4 linked regions of the Homo sapiens genome follow. The protein of the gene in region 2 purifies or fractionates together with the protein of the main gene of each other region. This does not show direct contact. Each region holds a gene or a part of one and is shown on either strand. Other genes may lie near its edges. The genes, in order: PAK2, G6PD, CAPN1 and HARS1.

Region 1 (6,321 bases), on a different chromosome or scaffold from region 2:
GCCTTATTTTATGCTTTTTGATAGTAAACCATTATTGTGGCTGTTCCCTATGTTAGGGTACCTAAGATTCCAAATTAATTCACATAATGAAGTGATGCCTTACGACGTATTGCACTCTAAAAGGTTTCTTGGTTCACTTAACACAGAAATTCTGATCAGGTTTTTATTACTCCAGCAAGGTGTGTGTTCAAATCAGAACTGTTTCCCTGGGTCTGATAGAGAAACATTGATAAAGAAAATTATTCTGAACTTGATTTAGAAAGGGAAAACTTCCCCTAACTACTCAGGAGGCCGAAGCAGGAGAATCACTTGAACCTGGGAGGCAGAGGTTGCAGTGAGCTGAGATGGCGCCACTGCACTCCAGCCTGGAAGAAAGAGTGAGACTTGTCTCAAAAAAAAAAAAAAAAAAAAAAAAAAGGAAAACTTCATGTTTACTGCCCACACATTTCTAGAAACCTTCCTACTTTGGAGCTTTGTAATAAATTCAAAATGATGGCACAACACCATTAAAAGGTTTAAAACATTTATCACTAAAAATACTAAATGTTCTTTGAAAACCTATTAAGACATTTAAATATTCTTTTATGCTATCAAAAGACATTAAAATATTCTTTTACGCTGATCAAAAGAAAGAATAAAAGTTTAGGAAAGGGAAAAATGCACACTTTTTTTAAAAAGTTTATTTCTAGCCCTGAAAGAACAAAATTATTGAACAAAGTCAAAATACAGCAGTTAATGTCAATGTATAACAATTAAATAATTGAACGGGATTAAATTAAAAATAAAAGGCATAAAATTTGAAGACAACAGAAAAGACAAAAACTACTTTTGCTTAATTCCATTTCTATCAAAACAAGAAAAAAAAAGCCAATGCGTTCCAACCAAAGATGTTGAATTCCACACGTAACTGTTTCTCTTATTACTTCTGTTCTCTTAGAAACACTTCTAAGTTCTAAGAGAACAGAAGTGTGCTTGACAGAACTATCATCCATTTCTTTCTGCCTCTGTCTTGGCAGCTTTCTAGAGAAGTGAATGGGAAAGACTTCGGTTCTTTCAAGGCCAGGCCAGCGCTTGCTTCTTCTTTCGAACTCCAACCTCATCCACCACAGCATCTTTGCCAGAGTGTTCAATCAATGTGTTGACTGAGAAAAAAGAATGTGTGTATCTATTTTTTCTTATATACACACACTATCAAAAAACTGATTTTACCAGTTTCAATACCTACTGTGGGAGCAGCGGAGACAGGAAGACAATCTGCTTTTTGTATTACTATGAAGTTCCACTATAAAAAACCCCAAATGAGTATTAATCTGGATTTTAGCTATAATCTATAATATTTTGACACTGACATTTCACTAGATGTGGATCTCAGTATATTTTAAAAGATTTAGACTCAAAAATGGATGCAAATTCTTTAAGCATCTATTTTGTTTTTTTCTAATTTTAGCTACTACCTGATCAGATCTAAAATTATTCTGGCTAGAATACAGTATATACAAACATGTATTTAAGTGAGCCCTAAAAGAAATACTCATAGGTGGTTTAGAATCGCTTGTTAGAGGCACAGGTTCGTTTACAGTTGCTGGTTACTAGACTGTACGCAGCTGGACACTTCTATGTTAAAGGGAAGAGAATGAATACTATGTGCCAGGCAGTCAACACATGAAGACAGAGTTGTATTAGCCTCAGTGTCTTATGCTTCACAATTACTCGTTTACTTTCAGGTAGGATAAAATGTTCCATGTTTCATAGTTTCCCAGTTTTAATTGTCCCTAAAAGCAGCAGAAGAAAAAAGAAAAAGAGAAGATAACTTTAAATCTAAAATAAAATAAATAAGTACTATAATAATACTGTCCTAATAACACAAGAGGACTATTAAGGTAACTTTCAGATTTAAATGGGAATTTTCATTCTAAAGTGATGACAAAAAGGGTAAATATAAAAGGCAATTATTTAAAAAACATGAGGCCAGGTGCAGTGGCTCACGCCTGTAACTGCAGCACTTTGGGAGGCCAAGGTGGGCAGACTGCCTGAGCTCAGGAGTTGGAGACCAGCCTGGGCAATGTGGTGAGACTCTGTCTCTACTAAAAATACAAAAAAATAGCTGGGTGTGGTGGCGGGTGCCTGTGGTCTCAGCTACTCAGGAGGCTGAGGCATGAGAATTGCTTGAACCCAGGAAGCGGAGGTTGCAGTGAGCTGAGATCATGTCACTGCACTCCAGCCTGAGTGACAGAGTGAGACTCTGTATCAAAAAAAATAAAAATAAAAAACATGAATCTTGATTCAGATATAATTTTTCTTTCAACAAGTTCTGAATGTTTTAAAATTAATAAATCACAATTCTGTATTACTTTTAAGATTGTTTAAAAATGACACATTTCAAAATTAACCAAAGTATATTTCTGTTAGAGGTTAGTTTATCCACGTAACTTAAGAATAAACCACAGCGTAGCTCCCTTAACCAAAGAGCCAGGTTTTAATGACAAGTCAGTTGCCAGCAATGGACGTGCAGGTAACTATCGAAGAAGTCGCAACTACAAATCCCAAACTGCTTCTATCAATGGAAAAGCCCTTTGTTGAGTCACAAGCCTGAAACGAGGCGTTGGCACATAGTCAGTGAGGATGGTCTTTGACTTAGGAGGGAAGTGCCTCTGAGTACATGAGGATCACAGTCTTCTCATCTCGTTGGTTTTCTATTTCATTGGTAGCATCTTCTTTATCATAATCCATCCAACTGTTTACAAAGAATGGTAAAATTTGGAACTCAGGTGGCACTGCAGCTTTCTGCCAGAAATAAACCAGTTTCTATAATTCAGTAATAGCTGTAGAAGGCCAATATATTCCAGAGAAAAATGAAATCAAGAATTATATTGAAAACAGAGACCATTAAGTGCTCTAAATATGTTTCATTAATTATTTTACTCATTTTTCTGAAAATCTTGCCTTATCAATAAAAAACAGTCACTTCTCTCCTTATAATTGCATCTTATCATAGATATAGTGGAAATAAAATAATGGAAATAAAACCTGCCAGTTTCTCCAATGTATACTACAACAGCAAAATTATTTTTTATTCATGATTTATACTACTGCAGGATGGCAAGCAGGGGGGAAGTTAATGGGGGAAGGGGATGGTGGGAACAAAATGCCAGAACCAAACCACAGATACTTGAACAACACCCACTCCAAAAGCAAAACAATGAATAAAGGAGAAGAAGAGGAGAGGAAAAAAGAGAAGAGAAAAGGGAGGGGAGGGGAGAAGGGAGGGCACTCAAATAATTAATGCTACAGGTCTCAGACCTTTTAGAATCTTTAAAAGAAACAAATTATTGCTATCAACACGCACATTTCATTTTCCTTTCTCGTTTTTTACAATAGTCTCTACTTATTTGAAAAAACAAAACAAAACTAAACTAAAGTAACTCAACATCTCAAATGATCTATAAATTCATCAAGAAATACTCTGTCGCTCAAGTTCTCATAGATAATACCACACTGCTGACGACCTGGGGCAATGCCACCGCCGCCAAGTCTCTACAGTCGATTTGCTATCGGCTGCTTCTCTGTAACACTAACATTCTCTTTCATGAGTATAATCTCTTCTCACTGTATCAGAGCTCACCAAGGTTCACATCTCTTACTGCCTCTGCTGCTAGTCCCAAATATTTTTCTCCTTTAAGTGGAAAAAAGCTAATTTTTAAATTCCTGAAAATTCACTGGTTATTATATTATTTGCCATGGGAGGGGGTATCTGTGAGGTGAGAGAGGATTAATGAAAAAGAAAAAGAACAAACCTAAACCTAAAATTGCAACATATACAGAAATTTATTTCCAAATTGAAGGGGGAAAGGAGGGAAGAAGGTAGTGGCACTAACCAAAGTCACAAAGCCCAGGTTGGAACAACAACAAATCACTTTGGTTCCTAGAGCCAAGCCTGAAGGGGAAACAGGCAGAAGGGAAGACAAAATGGGAAGAAGTCTACAGTCAATGGGAATCTTTTTCTATCTCAATGATTTAGTTATAAATAGAGATTATTAGTCTTCTCTCTATACATGTAACAAATGCCGAACTTACTACCACGAAATTTCTAAAACTGACTTTTTCACATTTGTTAAAAAAGGTAAAAATCACATACTTTTCTTCCCTTCCTTCAGGTCAAGTTCTGAACTAAAATATTACATGTAACAACAGCTGGTCCTAACTTTTATACAAAGTGAAACTATATAGAGCTCCTTTGCCAACATAAGGAGCTACATAATTTCTATTACACTTGCCTAGGCATGAGAAACGCAAAAGCAACTCAAAAGGAGCAAGTCCAGGAAAAGAAAAGCTATGAAGGAGAGAAAGACTAGCAGATGAAACACATACTCTGAAAAACTCCAATCTGCCATTCAAGTATTGGAAATACCCCAAAGGGGACAATGAATGGGATCTATTACAACAAAGTCAGCAAAGTAAAATGCAAATCTCACACATGATAAATGGCCCTGATAGGCTGTTTGCTGAAAGACCTAAGGCTAGTGATTCAGTCCACAATTCCTTCTGGACCCTAAAGAAGGGGTTCATATAAAAGTCATACTTGTCTTTTTGCAATTTTCTCTTGGTTGTCTTCAGAGAATAGTCATTTGCTTCTTTCATTCAGGTTATGCAGACCATTTCTTTAAACCCCAAAAAGAGTAATAATTTTCATATACTAAAAGGCTTCTTGTAGAAAATGGAAAAAAGAGTATGAGGCCACAGCAGTGATGTTAACGGTTACTCTTCATTGCTTCTTTAGCTGCCATGATCAGTGGTGTCAAGCTAGATAACGGTTTGGCCAGTTTCAGGAAAGGATGCTGCCAGAAAGAAGGGGAAAAATAAATGTATAAGTGCCATTCATCAGGTTAGAAACAAAATAATTTTGTTCAATTAAGCCCCAAAGACTACTTGTCGATCATAATTTAATAAACTAAACACATATTAATACCTTCATAAGACTAACATAATCAACGCATTACTTTCAGAGTTGAATGAAAGCAGAATCATTTTAGTTTGACAAATATACACACAACAGCAATAAACAGGTCTGAGGAGTGATACGATGCACAAACTGTAAACAGGTCTGAGGATTGATACGATGCACAAACTGTAAACAGGTCTGAGGATTGATACGATGCACAAACTGTAAACAGGTCTGAGGATTGATACGATGCACAAACTGTAAACAGGTCTGAGGATTGATACGATGCACAAACTGTAAACAGGTCTGAGGATTGATACGATGCACAAACTGTAAACAGGTCTGAGGATTGATACGATGCACAAACTGTAAACAGGTCTGAGGATTGATACGATGCACAAACTGCACATTACGGTTTTGTCAGAATTTTATTCACAGCAGATGAAACCCTCACTTTTTTTTTTAATACTTTAAGTTCTAGGGTACATGCGCACAACGTGCAGGTTTGTTACATATGTACACATGTGCCATGTTGCTGTGCTGCACCTGTTAACTCATCATTTACATTAGGTATATCTCCTAATGCTATCCCTCCCCACTCCCCCCACCCCACAACAGGCCCCGGTGTGTGATGTTCCCCTTCCTGTGTCCAGGTGTTCTCATTGTTCAATTCCCACCTATGAGTGGGAACATGCAGTGTTTGGTTTTCTGTCCTTGCGGTAGTTTGCTCAGCATGGTAGGATGAAACCCTAAATTGCAGCAGCTGCCATACCGCTGGTGATCAATGAGTAGTGAAATCTACTTATTAGCCCTAGGAAAGCTTTCTGTCGGTTACCAAAAAAGTCAACTATTCCCCCAAATGAAATCATTTTTAAATTTACCTGTAATAATTCTTTGGCTGAACCCCTTTTTTCCACATCCATTTCCAAACATCGATTTAAGAAATCCCGAAATATTGGGGAAAGTTTCTCTGGATTCTGAAGTTCTGGGGTTCCATTAGTTGCTATTAGGTACAAGGCCTAAAAATAGAAGAACATCTTTGATCCACTTAAGATAGCTCAACACGGTCACAGAGCACTCCATAAAGTCTAAGGGATTCTTTCTTCTTTAAAGAAAATCACCATAAATACTAAACTGGGGTTATCATTATCCCATTTAAATTTAGATTTGATACTTTCCTCTTATTTTTAGATGTTACATTTCCTTAAGTTACTTTTCTGAAATCAGATTCACCTTTGGTTTTTCTTCGGTTATAAATGCAATACATATTGCTTTTGTTTTGTTTTTTTTTGTTGAGACGGAATCTTGCTCTGTCACCCAGGCTGGAGTGCAGTGGTGCAATCTTGGCTCACTGCAACCTCTGCCTCCTGGGTTCAAGTGAC
Region 2 (5,986 bases):
CTTGGGCCTCTGGCGGGAGTGCTGGATCTTGGACTCTGGCCTCCAGAACTGGGAGAATCAGCCTATGTTGAGAGCTGCCCAGTGTGTGGCCCTTCTGCCTGGAAGGGGTGGCTGGGCCTGGCTGTGCATCACTGTGGACTGTCCCCTCTCCCTTGGCCTCTGACATCAGTCACAAAACCCATCCCCTCTCCTTCCTAAATACTTCTGTGGACTGGCAGTGTTGCTGGAAGTCATCTTGGGTGGGGCAGGGACATGGACAGTAAGAGCGGAAGGTGACCCCACATCCTTGCACCTCAAGCTGGTCTCACAATGACAATATGCGTGGAGCGGAGGAGGACTCAGGAGGTGTCTCTGACACCAAACATGGTCATGGCTGGACATGGGGTCAGAACCAGAAGTGAGGAGGCTCCTCAGTGGCCACAGAGGAAGCACCCGGGTGACTTGGGGAGTGGGACAAGGAAGTGGGTCCTCAGGGAAGCAAATGACAAGGGGACAGGAGGGGCTGTTTGCGGATTTAATGGCAGGGCATTGAGGTTGGGAGGGGTCCCAGCTGCTGCGTCTGCTTTTCTTATAGCAGAGAGGCTGCCTACGGGTGGCACGGGGTGGCCATGGAGTGCAGAGTTGGTGGGACAGGGGACATCCAGGGGGCTCGAGATGTTGCTGGTGACAAGGAATGTCAAGTGGCACTGAGGCTGGCGGGCAAGGCCACAGGCAGATTCTCTCACGTGGGTGCTCGCCCCTTTCCTCCCCCTCGTCCCTCCCTCCCACCCTGGCCCCACTCAGGAGTGAGACCCAGTGGCCAATAAGCTCTGGGACAGACGAATGGGCGCCCTCCTCCTTCCTTCTGTTGGGCTGGAGTGAGTGGAGGAGGTGACTCAGCTCCTGGGCTCAGGCAGGGTCTGGAGGGGCCAGGATGGTCTCGAGTGCTTGGCAGCTGAGGAATGTAGCTGGGCTCGGGTAGTAGCAGCAGCGAGGGGCGGGCCAGGGTGGCCAGAGCCCGGGGCCAGGAATGTGCAGCTGAGGTCAATGGTCCCGGAGTCCTCCCGACTCGGGGTCGGGCGGCGGGAAGGAGGGTGGCCGTGGCGGGGGTGGAGGTGGGTGCCCAGGGCTCAGAGCTTGTGGGGGTTCACCCACTTGTAGGTGCCCTCATACTGGAAACCCACTCTCTTCATCAGCTCGTCTGCCTCCGTGGGGCCTCGGCTGGAGAGTGACGGGTGGAGGAGAGGCATGAGGTAGCTCCACCCTCACCCCGCCCCTGCCCGCTGGGCTCTGTCCCCAGCCCCCACCCTTTCCTCACCTGCCATAAATATAGGGGATGGGCTTGGGCTTCTCCAGCTCAATCTGGTGCAGCAGTGGGGTGAAAATACGCCAGGCCTCACGGAGCTCGTCGCTGAGGGGACATGGTATGGCTTGGGAGGCCGGTGGCACACAGGGAGGGAGGGCAAAGGCCACCCCATAGCCCACAGGTATGCAGGGGCCGGCAGCTGGGCCTCACCTGCGCACGAAGTGCATCTGGCTCCCGCAGAAGACGTCCAGGATGAGGCGCTCATAGGCGTCAGGGAGCTTCACGTTCTGTGAGGGAGAGAGTGTCTTGCTGATGCCACTGCCTGCCACCATGTGGAGTCCCCCGGGCCCAGGCCGCCCACCCTCCACACTGCTCCTTCTCTGTAGGGCACCTTGTATCTGTTGCCGTAGGTCAGGTCCAGCTCCGACTCCTCGGGGTTGAAGAACATGCCCGGCTTCTTGGTCATCATCTTGGTGTACACGGCCTCGTTGGGCTGCACGCGGATCACCAGCTCGTTGCGCTTGCACTGCTGGTGGAAGATGTCGCCGGCCACATCATGGAACTGCAGCCTCACCTCGGCCTTGCGCTCGTTCAGGGCCTTGCCGCAGCGCAGGATGAAGGGCACCCCTACGTGGCGGAAAGGGCAGCCTCAGCACCAGCTCTCTCAGGGTGTGGACCAGTGCGTGAGTGTCTCAGTGGGAGCTCCAGTGCCCGCACACAGGGCATGCCCAGTTCTGCCTTGCTGGGCCTCGAAGGCATCACCTACCATCCCACCTCTCATTCTCCACATAGAGGACGACGGCTGCAAAAGTGGCGGTGGTGGACCCGCGGGGCACCGTGGGGTCGTCCAGGTACCCTTTGGTGGCCTCGCCCTCTCCATCGGGGTTCCCCACGTACTGGCCCAGGACCACATTGTTGGCCTGCACCTCTGAGATGCATTTCAACACCTTGACCTGAGAGAAAGCCAAGGGAGAGAATGGGCTCCTTGGGTGTTGAGTTGGGGTGCAGGGATGACTGTGGCCACAGATGTGCAGCCCTCAGGGCAGGAGGAGGCCCCTGCTTGGCTCTGCTCACCCTGCCAGAGGCCCAGCTCAGGGCCCCTCCCTGAGGACCCTCCAGGACCACCCTGGTCCATCTCGAGTCTATTCTGATGAACAAGCTGAGGCCCAGAGAGGCAATGGCCTTCCCTGGTCACATAGTGACTGTCAGGCCTGGGACATGACAACTTGGGCTTCATGACTGCCAGTCCAGGTCACCTCCGGGAGGCCACGCTGTGCTCAGAGGTGGTGACTTCTCCGGGGTTGAGGACACCTGCTCTGCATGCACACCCCAGCTCAGTGCCTCGTCACAGATGGGCCTGCGACAGGGCATGCTCCTGGGGACTGGGGTGCACCCCCTACCTTCTCATCACGGACGTCATCTGAGTTGGTGGAGGCGGGCTTCTCCATGGCCACCAGACACAGCATCTGCAGTAGGTGGTTCTGCATCACGTCCCTGGGGACGGAAGAGGCCAGAGCTCGCCTTAGCTCCCCGCCCTGTTCACCTGGTTCAAGGGCATGGGGACCCCAAACAAGGCTTCCTAGTGACAAGCTGCAAGACTCACTTCCTGATCCCCCTTGTCTTCCAGGTCCCCTTAAATCAAGGAAGGACATGGTGATGCTATCACTGAATCATAAAACCGTGGGGTGCTTGGCTGTGTAGGGGTCCAGCCCTTTCCAGCCCGGTCTGATAGCTCAGACACTTAGGTTTTGAACTGCAGGGTGAGGAGGAGCTCCCCCAAGATAGGGAAGAGTAGCCCTGCAGGGTGACTGGCTCTGCCACCCTGTGCCAGCCTCCCAGGAGAGAGGAAGAGCTCTCACCGGATGATCCCAAATTCATCGAAATAGCCCCCGCGACCCTCAGTGCCAAAGGGCTCCTTGAAGGTGAGGATAACGCAGGCGATGTTGTCCCGGTTCCAGATGGGGCCGAAGATCCTGTTGGCAAATCTGCAGGGAGGGGCAAGGTGGAGGAACTGACCTTGGGCCTCTGTGGTGCAGGGGCCACATGTGAGGGGTCACCCTTGTCTGAGTTCTGGAGGAATTCGTCCTCGGGGAGGCAGTGGGCCAGGTGAGGCTCCTGAGTACCACCCCCACCCTGGTCCCCCGGCCCAGGCTTGGCCCCACCTCAGCACCATGAGGTTCTGCACCATCTCCTTGCCCAGGTAGTGGTCGATGCGGTAGATCTGGTCCTCACGGAACAGGGAGGAGATGTGGTTGGACAGCCGGTCAGAGCTCTGCAGGTCCCTCCCGAAGGGCTTCTCCACGATGATGCGGTTCCAGCCTCTGCTGGGAGCCCGGAGCTGCGTTACCCCCTTGAACCCCTCTTCGGGGAGTGAGGATCAGAGCTGCATCATTCAGACGCCCTCCCAGGGGAGTAGAGGCCAGAACCTCCTCGCCCCCGTGGCCACCTCCCGTGCCTTGTGTTCCCAGATGACCCTCTGGCTCAACACCTTCCGGGAAGCCTTCCCACCCTGGGTGCCAGGGTGGCATTGCTGGCATGCTGCCGGGGGCCCGTTCCCCTCCTGCCTCATGCTGGGTCCCCGGTGGGTCTGAGTGGCCTGAAGGCCTGTAGGGGAGCAGGGGGAGGAGGCATCCAAGCCATGGCTTCCTCATTGGTTTTGAAAATGAGAAGAGGACCTTTGCTTTACTACCCCCGCATTCAAAACCAGCCAGAGGACAAGAGCCTCTGGCTGGGTTGGGAAACCACCCAGCGCGGGCCATGCTGCATTCGCAGAGCAAGGCTGCCACCCTGCGGCCTGGCCGGGCCTTTGGGGAAGCAGAGCGGAAAGGCGGTGTTTCGTGGAGCAACGCTGCCACCTTGTGGTCCCGCTGGGGATGGCCCCGGCACCATGGATGCTGCCCAGATCCCCGGCCCCGGACACGCTCATAGAGTGGTGGGAGCACTGCCTGGGCCAGCCTGGCAGGCGGGAAGGGAGGGCAACGGCAAGCCTTACATCTGGCTCATGCAGGACTCGTGAATGTTCTTGGTGACGGCCTCGTAGACGGTCGGGGGCAAGGCCAGGTAGAAGAGGCGGTTGGCCTGTGACCCCAGGTGGAGGGCATTCATGTGGCTGTTGAGGCGCTGGTAGGAGGCTGCATCATCGTACTGGCCAGCCACATAGGAGTTGCGGGCAAAGAAGTCCTCCAGCTTGAGCTTCTCCTCTGGGGTGGCCTGGGAGACACGGACAGACAGACACACAGACAGATGTCAGCCCCTCTCTTTGAGTCCGTGTGTGTTCTGCCCCAGGGGAGTGGAGGGTCTTCCCTGGAGGTCCAGGGAGGGTGCCCTCAGAAGTCAGTGTCCCCGTCCCACACTGGGTTCAGCCCCATCTTAGCAGCTCTGCACATCCAGAGGGAGGGAGGCCAAAGCAGGCAGCACAGACACTGCCCCAGGCTGGGACCCCTGTGCCTTAGGACAGAGGCCAGATTTCAGGATATTTTGACCTGGGAGAAATACACTGGAGAAAGCTCTCTCTCCAAAATCATGACACCCAACTATGATTGGCGGAGAAAACGCAGCAGAGCACAGCAGGAGGGGACCTGTGGGTCCTGGTCACGGGGGCTGGTAATGGGGGTCTCAAGGAAGTACGAGAGCAGGCGGGGCGGGGCAGGAGAGGAGGAGAGCATCCCGGGATGGGATGGGGGGAGGTCCCCGAAGCTGGCCATGCTGGGGGCTGGTAGAGAGGGCAGAACCAGGCTGGGGGAGGCCCTGACACCACCCACCTTGAAGAAGGGCTCACTCTGTTTGCGGATGTCAGCCACTGTGAGGCGGGAACGGGCATAGCCCACGATGAAGGTGTTTTCGGGCAGAAGGCCATCCCGGAACAGCCACCTGAGGGCAGGGCACAGCTGTAACCAGTGCGGGCAGGGCAGGACCAGGCCTGTCCCTGGCGGGAGGTCACAGGGGCAGTGGTGGGACACACTTACCAGATGGTGGGGTAGATCTTCTTCTTGGCCAGGTCACCCTGTGGCAGAGGGAACAGGTGTGTGGTTAGAAGTGGCTGGGGACACGACCTACATACATCATCCTCCACCCTTGGTGATCTGGGCACTACTCAGGATCACTACTGGGCCACAAGCATGTCTGTCTTGCCTGATATACAGACAGAAGAGCCCCGAGATTCAAGCCTGTGCCAGCCCTCCATCCCTGACCCAGAAGACATAAACGCATCTCCTGCGTTCCAGGAGAAAACCTGAAAATTCAATTCAGTAGAACCAAGGGACGACAGAAGTACCATGTAGCCACATTTGTGAGACGTGACCTCAAGTGCTTACATTAGCAAAAAAGAGTGGTTCAAAAATAAGGAGCTAAGCATTCCACTTAAGAAGTGAGAAAAAGGGCCAGATGCGGTGGCTCACACCTGTAATCCCAGCACTTTGGGAGGCTGAGGCAGGCAGATCACCTGAAGTCAGGAGTTCAAGACCAGCCAATGTGGCAAAACCCCATCTCTATTAAAAATACAAAAATTAGCCAGGTGTGGTGGCAGGCACCTGTAATCCCAGTTACTCAGGAGGCTGAGGCAGGAGAATCACTTGAATCCGGGAGGCAGAGGTTGCAGTGAGCCGAGATCGTGCCACTGCACTCCAGCCTGGGTGACAAGAGTGAGACTTCATCTCCAAAAAAAAAGTGAGAAAAAGATAGAACTGCAAGCCAAATTACCAG
Region 3 (7,030 bases), on a different chromosome or scaffold from region 2:
TCTGATAAAAGGTATCCACAAAAAACCTAGATTAGAAAGGTACTTAGTGGTGAAAACTTCCCCTTTAAGAGTGAGGCTTAGTTAATAGGGTTGCTCCTAAAAATAAGAATAAAAAAAAGGGAGGAACAAGAGCAGGAAGCTCTACAGTTCTAGGCAGCATATTAGACAAGAAAAAGTAACAAAAGTTGTAAGAATTAGAAAAGAAGAAACAATCTGTCATTATTTGCAGATGCTATATTCCTAATTAGAAAACCAAAAAGGGCTGGACGCAGTGGCTCACTGTAATCCCAGCACTTTGGGAGGCCAAGGCAGGCAGATCACCTGAGGTCAGGAGTTCGAGACCACCCTGGCCAACATGGTGAAACCCTGTCTCTAATAAAAATACAAAAATTAGCCAGGTGTGGTGCCGCACGCCTGTAATCCCAGCTACTCGGGAAGCTGAGGCACGAGAATCACTTGAACCAGGGAAGCAGAAGTTGTAGTGAGCTAAGATCGTGCCAAAAAATACATACAGATGAATCAGTAAGATTAATTAGTTTTAAAAAATTTGCTGGATATAAAAACTACATCTAAAAGGTCAAATGCATGTTATCGTATGAGCAACAAGATCACTTGGGAGATGTAATTTTAAAGAACATACTATTTATAATAGAAACAAAATTATAGTGTACCTAGCATTAAATCTCAAGAGATGTATAAATTCTTTATGATAAAAAATACAACATTCTATTGAAAGACATTAAAGGCCAAAATAAATGAAGAGATACACCATATCCTTGGATAAGACTTAAAATTATAAAAATGTCAAGTCTCCCCAAATTGGTCTATAGGTTTCATGTAATTCCAAATTAAAATCTCAAAATGGTTTTTCAAAAGACTTGGTAAACTGATTCTAAAATTCATTTGGAAAAACAGAGGTCAAGAACAGCTAAGACAGATGCAGTGGCTCACGCCTGTAATCCCAGCAATTTGGGAGGCTAAGCCAGGTGGATCACTTGAGTTTGAAACCAGCCTGGCCAACATGGTGAAACCCCGTCTCTACTAAAAATACAAACATTAGCTGGATGTGGTGGCGGGCACCTGTAATCACAGCTACTCAGGAGGTTGAGGCAGAAGCATCATCTGAACCCAGGAGGCAGAGGTTGCAGTGAGCCGAGATCGCGCCACTGCACTCCAGCCTGGGCAACAGAGCAAGACTCCGTCTCAAAAAACAAAAACAAAAACAAAAAAAACCAACAACAAAAAAAACAGCTAAGAGACTCTTGAAGAAGGAATTTGCCCTGTCCAACAGCAGGACTTACACATCTGTAGTAATGGATTCAATGTGTTATCGGCAGAGGGATAGACCCAGGGACAGAATGGTGAGTCCAGAAACAGACCAACACATACCTCAGGACTACTTGAGGGCGCTAGTGCTGCTGGGGAGAGACGAGATGATGTATTTCTCAATAAATGGTACAGGGAACGGTGGTTATCTATTTGGGGAAAGACTGAAATTGGATCCCTACAAGGGAGAAGAATGCTTCAAAACAGAGGGCAGGGAGCCGTGCTGAGGATGCAGCACAGGAGGACAGAGCAGCGGCGGATCTGGCAAGGCCAAAGCTTAAGTGACCTTTGAGAGGGTGGTTTTAGCAGCATGGTAGGGATGAAGCTGGACTGGGAAGGGTTAAGCAATGAAGCAGAAGTGAGAAAGGAAATAGGGAGTATGGTAATTCCTGATAAATTGTGCTTTGAAGGAGGGCGGAGAAATGAACAGGGAAGTGGGGTCGAGAGGGTTGCTTTGTGTTAAGACAGAGGACTCTCCGTAATGACACTGGAGAGAGAGGTGACAGATGAAGGAGCAAATGCTTTCAGAGGTGAGGGAGAATGGGATCTGGAGCAGACGTGGGGGTCCCCATGAACAGGGACTGTTCTGCCACTGTCGCAGGTGGGGAGGCGATGAGGACACAGGCACAGGTGCAGAAGGCTGGGGGATTTGGAGGTGGGAACACAAGGTGTCCTGCAGGATGAAGTCTATCTTTTCAGTGAAGTGCAAGGCCAGGCCCGAAGGTGAGAGTAACAGTGGGGAGATATCGAGGTGAGAGTGGAAATGTTACTAACCAGTAGTGGAATTGCTGGGGATTATGGAAAATGCTCATTTGAGATTTGTGGCTAAGAATTTACAGGGAAAATATGGCATCGGTTATGTGATTTCTCTCCTGCCACACTCAATGGTTCCCAAGCCAGTGGAGATGGGTTTTGTGCCAGATGATGGGAGACAGGGGCCAGGGAACTGAAAGTGTTTGTAGGAACAAGATTAAAATGATAGCTCTAACCTAGGTAAGGAGAGAAGGCAAGATGGGAGAGGCAGGATGGTACGCAAGTGATGGGTTCAACGGACTGGCTTGGTCGAAGGGTTGAAGACTAAGGGAGTGGAAAGAGTCGAAGGTGGAGGTCAGAGAGCGGGTGTTTGCAAGACAAGGCAGCTCTGGTGCCCTCATGGTGGGGGCTGAGCTAAGGTAGAGAAAAAGCGTGCTGCAGTGAGAGTGACAAGGAACTGAGAGGCCAGGCTGTGGCCCACATCAGCCACATGGATCTAGAAGCCCAGGGAAAGGTGGCAAGAGAAGGCAAGAAGGGACCTGGCACAGTGGCGCACGCCTGTAATCCCAGCACTTTGGGAGGCCAAGGTGGTCGGATCACCTGAGGTCAGGAGATCGAGACCAGCCTGGCCAACATGGAGAAACCCTGCCTCTACTAAAAATACAAAAATTAGCTGGGTATGGTAGGTGCCTGTAATCCCAGCTACTCGGGAGGCTAAGGCAGGAGAATTGCTTGAATCCGGGAGATGGAGGTTGTAGTCAGCCAAGGCCACGCTACTGCACTCCAGCCTGGGCAACAGAGTGAGACTCTGTCTCAGAAAAAAAAAAGCGAAGGCAGGAGGGAAGGGCCCAGGAAAGGAGTGACAGGCAGGTGGCTGGATGGCCACAAGATCTTTGCCCCTCATGAGCACCCTGGGCTCAGGCCCCAAGACGGTGAGTCAAGCATGCCTCTTTAAAATTTACTAGGACATTTAATATTTTACTCCTCAAAGCAAATTCAAGAGATCAGCCTATATCTTGCAAGTGAGGAAACGGAGGCTCAGTAAGATGACGTGCCTTCTGGAGCCCCTAAGCCAGGAAGCAGCAAGACCCAGAGCCCGCCCCTGTGCACCTGGGTAGTTTCGGCAGCCCCCCGCGGTGCTCCCCCGCCGCCAGGTGCCTTCGTAGAGTGTGGTGTTCCATTTGCGGATGGTCCGGCTCTTGAGGGCGTCGGGTGTGAGGTTGCAGATCTCCAGGCGGGTGAACTCCCGCATGAAGTCTCGGAATGACATCCTGAGGTGGGAGGTACACAGGTGAGGCACAGCCCGTCAGGGCACAGAGCTGATGTGTAGGGGTGGAGAGGTGGGGTAGAAGGGGAGGGGGCGCTCACCAGAACTCCCCGTCCTCCATCTTGACCCGGAGCTGGTCCCGTTCATATGGGTCCACGTTGTTCCACTCTGAGGAGCTGTGAGGAGCAGGGCTCTGCCAGGGCTGGTGGGCACTGACCTGCCTGGCCTCTGTCCCTGGGGCCTGTCTACCCTGGCCTGTCTTCCCCCGGCCCAGCCCAGGTGGCCTCCTCAAGGTCAAGCGCCAAGGTTCCGCTTCTAGGGGGTGGTCTCATCAGGGCCAGTCTGATGCCCTGCACACACCCGACGGCTGGGCACAGGGGCCCGCACGGCCTGAGCTTTGTCAGAGCAGTCCCCCAGACCCAGTCGCGCGAAGATGGGCCCCTCTGCTCAATCCTGAGTCCAGCCTGGCCTGGTAGAGTCCCGAGCAGAAATGTCGGGGCACCTAACAGTTTCCCCAAGGCACTCCAGACAGTGCCCACTGCCCCTCACCTGTCGCTCCAGGCTCCCGTCCACTCCACCTCGCCCCAGGGGTTCCGCATCCGGATCAGGCTCACCACCTGGCCTCGGTAGTTCACCTATTTGCCAGAGCTCCTGTCAGTGCTAGCTTCCAGCAGGCACTTTTTTTTTTTTTCTTTTTTGAGACAGAGTCTTGCTCTGTCACCCAGGCTGGAGTGCAGTGGTGCGATCTCAGCTCACTGCAACCTCCGCCTCCTGGGTTCAAGCAATTCAATTCTCTTGCCTCAGCCTCCCAAATAGCTGGAATTACAGGCACCTGCCACCACACCCAGGTAGTTTTTGTATTTTTAGTAGAGACAGAGTTTCACCATGTTGGCCAGGCTGGTCTCGAACTCCTGACCTCAGGTGATCTGCCCACCTCAGCCTCCCAAAGTGTTGGGATTACAGGTGTGAGCCAGTGCACCTGGCCCATGCACGCACTTTAACACTCCGCCTCCCATACCCTCATCCTCTCCAAGCCCTGCTCAGCACCCAGATGAAGCCTGTCCTCTTGGAATTCACAGCCCAGGCAGGCAGCTGCACACATGAACTACAGTCAGTCAGGGCAGGACATGATAGGCATCTCAGATGGGTGTCCCCAGAAGAGAGATAAGGTGCTGCAGGAGGGGAAAGGAGGAGCCAGCACCTTCCACAGCCCTGGTCAGGTGCCAGAGAGGCAAGGACAGGCCAGGGGGCAGGAACCGCCCTTCAGGGAAGGCCCCACCCAGGGCAGTACCTGCTTGGCCCCGGTCACAGAGTAGGCATGGCCCTTCACCAACTTCTTGAAAGTGATGGCCTCCATGTCTAGAACGCTGGAGATCTGCAGAAAGAGGCACACACTGTGGTCAGTGGCTAGGTCCCCCCGCCCTATCAGATGAGCCCCCAGCACTCAGGGTCTTGGACGTTCCCACTTGCACATACAACAGTTGCTAGGAGAAGCAAGCAGGGACCCCGATCCCACCTATAGACACCCCCACATATAGATGCTGCTCTTTTGGAGAGGGGTAGCCTGGGTACCCCACCAATGCTGCCACTGGGACAGGGGAGCCCAGGCACTCCGCTGACACTGCTACTGGCCAGGGCTGACCAGAACCTGTGCGAACATGCATGTGCACACACACAGCCGTGCACAGCCCACCAGAGCCACACAGCCCTCAGTGGGCCTCACGGAGAAGGACGTGAGGACAGAAGAGTCAGTTAGAAATGGGAATGGGAGCTGGGGTTAGAGCTGCGGATGGCAGTGATACTGGGGTCAAGTCTGGCGTTGAGGACTGGGGAGCGGAGTTGAGTGTGGGAACAGAGGAGCAGGGAAGGGTGGGAATGGAGTGAGTGTGGGATTGAGGCTAGGGATGGGTGGGAACTGAGACCAGGAGATGAAATCTGAGGCTGGTGAACTGGACAGAGGATGGCATGGATTGAGATGACAGGAATGAGGGAAACAGCATGGTAGACGGGAAAACAAGCACAGGAAAGAGCTGAGGTGTGAAGTTTTGGGGGAGGAGTGGGTAGGTGAGGACAGGAGCGACACCAGGCATGGGGGGTGGAAGTGATGGATGAGGCAGGGTATGCATCCAGAGATGAAGCTTAAGTGCAGGACAGGGTCTGGAGCGGAGCCTGGGTGGGGATTTTAGAAAATGTGACAGGTCAGGATACCAGGGTTCCAGGGTACCAAAGCATCGGGGCCGGGCACACTCACGTCTATGGAGCAGCCCAGCAGGGAGCCCCGCTCCAGCGCCTTGAGGATGATCTGGTAGAGGTCACTGGGAGCCTTGCGCAACTCGTACCACTCGGTAACCCCGCCTGTGAAGTCCTCAAAGCCCTCTGAGGTGCTGCCCCCTGACAGGGCCTCGTAGCTGCCATTTACCCTGTGGGCAGCTCCAGGTCAGCACTCTGGCATCAAGCAGGACCCTCTGAGAAGACAGTCATGAGCCCCCACCCCTAGGGGGAGCTGGAAGCTGGAGTTGCCCCCTCAGCCGCTACTCACTTGGCATAGGCCTTCTCAAGCAGGGCGCTCCAGAACTCGTTGCCTTCGGCAGAGTGCACGAACACTAGCTTCCCGTCCTTGATGGGCAGCAGGTCATCCACGACCACGTCCACCCACTCCCCAAATTGCCACAGCTGTGGGGGAGGGGCACGGTGAGTACCTGCTTTGGAATCCCCCGGACCTGAGCTCCATCCTTACCCCTACCTTCCTAGATGCAGGATTCTACATCCCAGATACATACTAGATACACATAGACTAAATCATGTAAATTAGATACATACTAGATGTATACTAGGTCAGGTATACCAGATACATAGTAGATGCATGTATACTAAATCACATATACTAGATACATACTAGATGCATGTGTACCTCTAGATACATGTATGCTACAGATATACTAGATACATGTATCTAGGTATTGAAGGAAATCAAAGTATTTCACCCTGAAATATACTTCTTCAACATATTTTGAGATAGCTGTTCAGAGGGTCTGCAAACAGAAGTAGCCCTGTAATACTGTCTTTTGTGGGGGAGATTTGCATCTGTAGAGAAAATCTGCATTGATGTAGCCAGGCTTTCTCTAAGGCCTTCCCTTGTCAGACTGAGAGCCTGACACCCTTTAAAGGTCTGAACGAAACAATTACCATCTATTCCCTCTGAGGGCTGCTACCTGTGAGGTTTCATCTACATAACAAGACTGCCTTTGCTACCCAGGCCCCCTTTTCTCCCCCTTCCATAGTCTGTCTTGCCACTATAACCTGATTTACCACCAGAAACTGGTTTTGGCCATGTTCGAGCCCCCATTCTTCCTGTAACCTCAGGATGGTATATAGGCTTCTGTACCCATTGTGGGGCTGGGGTGAACACTCTGTGGTTCCCGACCCCACGCTGCAGGCTAATCAATTTGTATGCCATTTCTCCTACTAACCTCCTTTTGTGAGTTGATTTTTCAGTGAACCTTCAGAGGGCTAAGGGGATGCTTTCCTTTGCCTGTACAATGTATACTAGATACCTGCATATTTGCTGTATACTAATACATGCATACCACATATAGACATGTGTATACTTGATATGTACATGTATGCTCGAGACATACTAGCTACATGATCCTGGAAAAGTTATCGCCTCTGAGCCTCAGTTTC
Region 4 (7,030 bases), on a different chromosome or scaffold from region 2:
AGGGAAGACGATGTAAAGACAAAGGGAGGCTGGGCGCGGTGGCTCATGCCTGTAATTCCAGCACTTTGGGAGGCTGGGGTGGGCGAATCACTGGAGGCCAGGAATTCAAGACCACCAACCTGGTCAACATGGTGAAACCTCGTCTCTACTAAAAATAGAAAAATTAGCCAGGTGTGGTGGCACACGTGTTGTAATCCCAGCTACTTAGGAGACTGAGGCAGGAGAATCGCTTGAACCTGGGAGGTGGAGTTGCAGTGAGATGAGATGGTGCCACTGCACTCCAGCCCAGGCAACAGAGCGAGACTCTGTCTCAATTAAAAAAAAAACAAAGGGAGATGATGGCCATCTACAAGCCATGGAGAGAGGCCTGGAACAGATCCTTCCTTATGGCCTTCAGAAAGAACTAGGCCTGCCAACATGTTATGTCAACTTCCAGCCTCTGGAACTGTGAGAAAATAAATTTCTGTTGTTTAGACTACCTAGTCTATGGTACTTTGTTATGGTAGCCCTAGCAAACTAATACAGTAGGTAAAAACAGTCTCATAAATATGTACAATTAAATATCAATAAAAAGAGACATTGATGAAGGAAACAACAGATAATTTCAGACAGTTTTATAGCCTAAAGGCAATAAACTAGCTCATTGTGATAAGAGAGAGAACAGCTACTTTAAAGAAGGTAGTTGGAGAAGATTACTTGAGGAGTGGCATTTTAGCTGAGCTCTGAAATTAAAATCTGGCTGGCTGGACGTGGTGGCTCATGCCTGTAATGTCAGCACTTTGGGAGGCTGAGGAAGGAGGACCACTTGAGGCCAGGGGTTCGTTCGCAAGCAGCCTGGGCAACATAGCAAGACCTCTGTCTCTATTTGTATTTTTTTTTTTTAAAAAGGAATTAAAATCTGCAGTCTCTAGTATAATCTGAAATAAATCATGCAAAGAGCTAAGGAAAGGGAGTTCAGGAAAGGGGAAGAGCAAGAACAAAGGTGTGGAGGTACAAACACACTGACTATGTTCCAAGAGTAGGAAGAAGACCAGAGTAGCATAGTGGGCAAGAGGAAAAATAGCATGAGATGAGGTAGGAGAGGCAGTGGCCAGATCACCTAGGGCTCTGTAAACCTGAGTAAAGAGTTTGGGTTGTACTATAAGTGCAGTGGGAATCACTGGGTTTGAAGCAGGTAGTAATGCAATCTGGGTTGGCTGGTTTGTTTTAGAGACAGGGGCTTGCTACATTGCCCAGACTGGAGTATGGTGGCTATTCACAGGCACCATCATAGCACACTACAGCCTTGAACTCCTCGGATCCAGTGATCTTTCTGCTTCAGCCTCCTGAGAAGCAGGAACTACAGATGTGCCCAGTTGCAATCTAGTTTTTAATAGCAAAGAACTACTAACAACTTCAGAGTCCATCAATAGGAGAGTGGTTGCATATTTATGTACGTATGGTTTGCATGAATCTAGAAAACATTCCAAGTACAGATGCCACGCAATACAATGTAGAGAGGACCCAGAACAATTACCATTCCAAAGAATGGCTCTCTTTTGGAATCTGCTGGCCACAACCAAGATAATAAAAGACAGGGCCTCTCCCTCCAAGCCATTCTTGTCCCCCTTCTTATTGGAGCAAAGACTGGTCTGTGTCCACAACAGGAGTGGGCCCTTTGGACCCTCACTCTCTTGTTGTCATCTTCTTTGTTATTCAAATGCCCACTCATCTACCATGTAGTTTCTTCTTGCCCATTCCTCACCTTTAGTTCAAATACAGGTGTATCAATGACTTCTGCACCGTGGCGCTTGAAGCAACGGATGATTACGTCAAACACCTTCTCGCGAACTGCCATCTGCCGGGGACTATAGTCTCTTGTGCCCTTGGAGTTGAAATCAGCCAGAGAACCAGAAATGAGGTTTGAAAACCAAGAACAATATGTTTTGGAAATATAAAAGGATGACCTCAATAATGAAAAAGCAAATCCTGCTCTAAACAGATTTTCCTACAGGCCACTGAGTTTTAAAACAAGTACAAATAATTCCCTATTAATTCCCACACCCATTTGCTATCTGCCTTCCAAACTCCATTCCCTTTTAAGTTTGGGTCTATTTTCTAAAATTCTTAGAACTCTTTTCTTTAAGCCATTTTTCTAAACACTCTCTCTCAGATAACAGAACATTTCCTGGCCTAATAACAAACACCTACCTGAGGCCAGGCACAGTGGCTCACGCCTGTAATCCCAGCACTTCGGGAGGCCAAGGCAGATGGATTGCCTGAGGTCAGGGGTTCGAGACCAGCCTGGCCAACATGGTGAAACCTCGTCTCTACTAAAAATACAGAAATTAGCCGGGTGCGACGACACGCCCCTTGTAGTCCCAGCTACTTGGGAGGCTGATGCATGAGGATCCTTGAACCTGGGAGGTGGAGGTTGCAGTGAGCCGAGATTGTGCCACTGCACTCCAGCCTGGGCAACAGAGTGAGACTGTCTCAATAAAACAAACAAATGGTGGTGGCAGGTGCCTGTAATCCCAGCTACTCAGGAGGCTCAAGGCAGGGAGAATCACTTGAACCTGGGAGGCGGAGGTTGCAGTGAGCCAAGATTGCACCACTGCACTCCAGACTGAGAGACAGAGCGAGACTCTGTCTCAAAAACAAAACAAACCAACCAGCCGGGCGCGGTGGCTCACACCTGTAATGCCAGCACTTGGGGAGGCCGAGGCGGGCGGATCACGAAGTCAGGAGATCAAGACCATCCTGGCGAACACTGTGAAACCCCGTCTCTACTAAAAATACAAAAAAATTAGCCGGGCGTGGTGGCAGGTGCCTGTAGTCCCAGCTACTTGGGAGGCTGAGGCAGGAGAATGGCGTGAACCCGGCAGGTGGAGCTTGCAGTGAGCTGAGATAGTGCCACTGCACTCCAGCCTGGGAGACAGAGCAAGACTCTGTCAAAACAAAAACAAAAACAAAAACAAACCCAACCAAACAAACAAAAATAATAACAACAAAAAAATACCTACATGATTATAGGCAATATAACCAACTCAAACTGGCTCAACTAATTGAATTCCAAATTTTATAAGCAACGTTTCTCTCCCAATATAACTTTTCTTTTAAATCTTAGTTACAACTGTTTGTTCTCTAATTTGTTTCTGGTAACAACTCTATGACATAGGCTAGGCAGATAAATTTTACAGATGAAGTACAGGATGTTGAGAAGTTAAGTCATTTCTTAAGGCCATTCAGCATGTTCGTGGCAGTCAGGACTAGAACTGTGTTGTCCTTCCAGGTCAGAGCTTCCAATCTGGGCTTTTATACCCTACTCCAAAGTCTTTGGTTTCAGGACCTCTTTACACTCTTACTATGTATTCAAGACCCCAAAGTGGATTATACCTATCAATATTTACTGTATTAGAATTAGAACGGCAAAAATTTTAAAATATTTATTCATTTAACAAATAACATATGTTAACACAAATAATATATCTATTATATGTTAACGCAAATAATATTTTAGAAAAAGGTAACTGTTTTCCAAAACAATTTAGTGAGAAGAGTGGCACTGATTTACATCTTTGCAAATCTTTAATGTCTGACTGAATAGAAGACAGCAGGATTCTCATATGTGATTTTTGCATTCAATCTGTCGTGATATGTCGTGCTGGTTGAAGTATATAACGAAAATCTAACCTTACACAGATATGTAGTTGTAAAAGGAAGAGTATTTTAACAAACTTTTCAGCTAACTGTGGATATTTTTCTTTGGTACTACATCAGAATCCAACAAGTGGTTGTTTCTTAAAGATTGGTTGCAATGTGGAATTTGAAAGCTAGATCAATGAACTTAAAAAAAAAAAAAAAGAACAATTAGTCTCTCACTTATCTAGTACCTAGAATAGTCAAATCCATAGAGACAGAAAGTAGAAAGTAGGATAGCAGTTACCAGGGGCTGGAGGGAGGGTGAAGTGGGGAGTTATTGTTTAATGGGTACAGAGTTTCAATTGGGGATGATGAAAAAATTCTGGAGGTGGATAATGGTGATGGTTATGAGTATGAATGTACTTCATGTTACTGAACTGTACACTTAAAAATCATTAAAATGGGCTGGGCGTGGTGGCTCACACCTGTAATCCCAGCACTTTGGGAGGCCAAGGCAGGTGGATCACGGGGTCAAGAGATCGAGACTATCCTGGCCAACATGGTGAAACCCCATCTCTACTAAAAAATACAAAAATTAGCTGGGCGTGGTGGCACACACCTGTAGTCCCAGCTACCTGGGACGCTGAGGCAGGAGAATTGCTTGAACCCAGGAGGTGGAGGCTGCAGTGAGCCAAGGTCATGCCACTGCACTCCAGCCTGGTGACAGAGTGAGACTCTGTCTCAAAAAAAAAAAAAAATCATTAAAATGGTAAATTTTATGTTACGTATATTTTCCTACAAAAAAAAATCCACTACTGTATTTTGTACTTTGAATGAATGGATCCTTTGCCTGTGCATGATTTCATAACAGGTCTTTCAAATGTTGATACATTTCATTATACAATATCAGGAAGCCTTATTTATTTACATCACTTCAGATCTCATCAAGAAAGTCTTTTTTTTTTTTTTTTGAGATGGAGTCTCGCTCTGTCACCCAGGCTGAAGTGCAGTGGTGTGATCTCGGCTCACTGCAACCTCCACCTCCCAGGTTCAAATAATTCTCCTGCCTCAGCCTCCTGAGTAACTGGGACTACATACAGGCGCGTGCCACCACGCCCGGCAAATTTTTTGTATTTTTAGTAGAGACGGGGTTCCACCATGTTAGCCAGGATGGTCTTGATCTCCTGACCTCATGATCCACTTGCCTCTGCTTCCCAAAGTGCTTGGATTACAGGCATGAGCCACCTTGCCTGGCCTGTTTTTATTTGTTTGTTTGTTTTTGAGATGGAGTCTCACTCTGTCACCCAGGCTGGAGTACAGTGGCGTGTTCTCGGCTCACTGCAACCTCCACCTCCCAGGTTCAAACGATTCTCCTGCCTCAGCCTCCCAAGGAGCTGGGATTACAGACGTGAGCTACCATACCTGGCTAAATTTTTATTTTTAGTAGAGACAGCGTTTCACCATGTTGGCTAGGCTGGTCTCAAACTCCCGACCTCAGGTGATCCGCCCACCTTGGTCTCTCAAAGTGCTGGGATTACAGGCGTAAGCCACCACACCCAGTAGAAAACTCTTTAATTATTGGGAAGCTGTCAAGCTTATGATGGAAGATGCAAGTTTTCTAAAATTCTTTTTTTTTTTTTTTTGAGATGTAGTTTCACTCGTTGCCTAGGCTGGAGTGCAATGACGCGATCTCGGCTCACCACAACCTCTGCTTCCCAGGTTCAAGCGATTCTTGTGCCTTAGCTTCCCTAGTAGCTGGCATTACAAGCATGCGCCACCACGCCCAGCTAATTTTTAGTAGAGATGGGGTTTCTCTATGTTGGTCAGGTTGGTCTCAAACTCCCGACCTCAGGTGATCCGCCCGCCTTGGTCTCCCAAAGTGCTGGGATTATAGGCTTGAGCCACCATGCCCTGACTAAGTTTTCTAAAATTCTAACTTTCACCTGAATACTTGAATTTTTTCACTGCCTACAAGTACTGTCAGATGTTTTCCTTGAGGTGACGAGGCTCACTTCGTTTATTGTTGTAAAAATGTCTGCCAAATATTTAAGTTTGAAAAACCATAATTTATCTTTCAGTTGTTAATTCAAATAAAACAAGATGTTCTATGAAAAAAGTAGCTAGATCAGCTTGCAACTTGAACAATGGCATAAGCATTTTCCCTACCTTGGCGTGCAGAAGTGCTTTATGTGTACTTCCCATTTTGTCATAGCAAATATTTAAAAATAGGGTCCTCAAGGGTCAAGATTCAATAAAATCAGTAAGTTTTTGGCCAGGCATGGTGGCTCAGCCTAGCACTTTGGGAGGCCAAGGTGGGCAGATTGCCTGAGCTCAAGAGTTCCAAACCAGCCTGGGCAACATGGTGAAACATGTTGTAGGTTTCTTGTATGTTTTTTGTATTTCTGTAAAAATACAAAAAATTAGCTGCATGTGGTGGTACCCGCCTGTAATCCCAGATACTCAGGAGGCTGAGGCACAATAATTGCTTGAACCCGGGAAGTGGAGGCTGCAGTGAGCCAAGATCGTGACACTGAACTCCAGCCTGGGCAACAGAGTGAGATTCTGTCTCCAAAGAAACCCCAAAACAAACAAAGTTTTACCATTTTATCAATGACATAGTTAAGTAAAACTGAATTTTTTAAATTAATTAATTAATTAATTTATTTATTTACTTACTGTGAGTGCATGGCAGTGAAGAACACACTGGCTATTAGTACAGTTTAGTGTCACTGTCTTAATGTATGCTAAGGCACCAGCAGTTCTACTCACCAGCGCTTTTGTGCCTTCAGTGCAAATGTTAACACAACGAAAAAGGCAGATAATGTCTTAGAATTATTATAGAAGGGCCAGGCGCAGTGGCTCACGCCTGTAATCCCAGCACTTTAGGAGGCCGAGGTGGGAGGATCACTTGAGGCCAGGAATTCAAGACCAGCGCAGCCAACACGGTGAAACCCCATCTGTACTAAAAATACAAAAAATTAGCTAGGTGCGGTGGCACATCCCTGTAGTCCCAGCTACTCGGAAGGCTGAGGCAGGACAATCGCTTGAACCCGGGAGGCGGAGGTTGCAGTGAGCTGAGATCACGCCACTGCACTCCAGCCTGGGCGACAGAGCAAGACTCCGTCTCAAACAAAACAAAACAAAACAAAACAAAACAAAACAAAACAAAAGAATTATTATAGAAATAGTTTTGACCATGAAGATCCCTTGAAAGAGTCTTGTCCCCACAATACTGAGTTTTCTATTGTTAATACTAAAATGGATATTAACTCTCTAGCATAATCTTAACACTATAGTATGGAAATTTTCAAAGACACAATATAGAGAATAGTATTACAGGTCACCATTTATCCATTACCCAGCTTCAACAACCATTAACATCTGCTATTCTTATTTCATTTAAGCCCTG

What was found.
Region 1: the proteins of G6PD (region 2) and PAK2 fractionate together in Homo sapiens (co-fractionation; 2 studies listed by BioGRID). This does not show direct contact.
Region 3: the proteins of G6PD (region 2) and CAPN1 fractionate together in Homo sapiens (co-fractionation; 2 studies listed by BioGRID). This does not show direct contact.
Region 4: the proteins of G6PD (region 2) and HARS1 fractionate together in Homo sapiens (co-fractionation; 3 studies listed by BioGRID). This does not show direct contact.

What each region holds. Positions count from the first base shown.
Region 1 is NC_000003.12:196,826,833-196,833,153, reverse strand, and holds the end of PAK2 (serine/threonine-protein kinase PAK 2), read right to left. Parts: intron 5,959-6,321; coding exon 5,821-5,958; intron 4,836-5,820; coding exon 4,749-4,835; 3' UTR 507-4,748; downstream 1-506. UniProt on the Homo sapiens protein: Serine/threonine protein kinase that plays a role in a variety of different signaling pathways including cytoskeleton regulation, cell motility, cell cycle progression, apoptosis or proliferation.
Region 2 is NC_000023.11:154,530,891-154,536,876, forward strand, and holds the end of G6PD (glucose-6-phosphate 1-dehydrogenase), read right to left. Parts: intron 5,289-5,986; coding exon 5,251-5,288; intron 5,156-5,250; coding exon 5,047-5,155; intron 4,496-5,046; coding exon 4,278-4,495; intron 3,607-4,277; coding exon 3,448-3,606; intron 3,271-3,447; coding exon 3,145-3,270; intron 2,780-3,144; coding exon 2,686-2,779; intron 2,239-2,685; coding exon 2,052-2,238; intron 1,913-2,051; coding exon 1,677-1,912; intron 1,573-1,676; coding exon 1,496-1,572; intron 1,391-1,495; coding exon 1,298-1,390; intron 1,201-1,297; coding exon 1,110-1,200; 3' UTR 501-1,109; downstream 1-500. UniProt on the Homo sapiens protein: Catalyzes the rate-limiting step of the oxidative pentose-phosphate pathway, which represents a route for the dissimilation of carbohydrates besides glycolysis.
Region 3 is NC_000011.10:65,184,906-65,191,935, reverse strand, and holds part of CAPN1 (calpain-1 catalytic subunit), read right to left. Parts: intron 6,020-7,030; coding exon 5,886-6,019; intron 5,767-5,885; coding exon 5,598-5,766; intron 4,722-5,597; coding exon 4,638-4,721; intron 3,982-4,637; coding exon 3,896-3,981; intron 3,523-3,895; coding exon 3,448-3,522; intron 3,351-3,447; coding exon 3,190-3,350; intron 1-3,189. UniProt on the Homo sapiens protein: Calcium-regulated non-lysosomal thiol-protease which catalyzes limited proteolysis of substrates involved in cytoskeletal remodeling and signal transduction. Proteolytically cleaves CTBP1 at 'Asn-375', 'Gly-387' and 'His-409'.
Region 4 is NC_000005.10:140,681,356-140,688,385, forward strand, and holds part of HARS1 (histidine--tRNA ligase, cytoplasmic), read right to left. Parts: intron 1,865-7,030; coding exon 1,745-1,864; intron 1-1,744. UniProt on the Homo sapiens protein: Catalyzes the ATP-dependent ligation of histidine to the 3'-end of its cognate tRNA, via the formation of an aminoacyl-adenylate intermediate (His-AMP). Plays a role in axon guidance.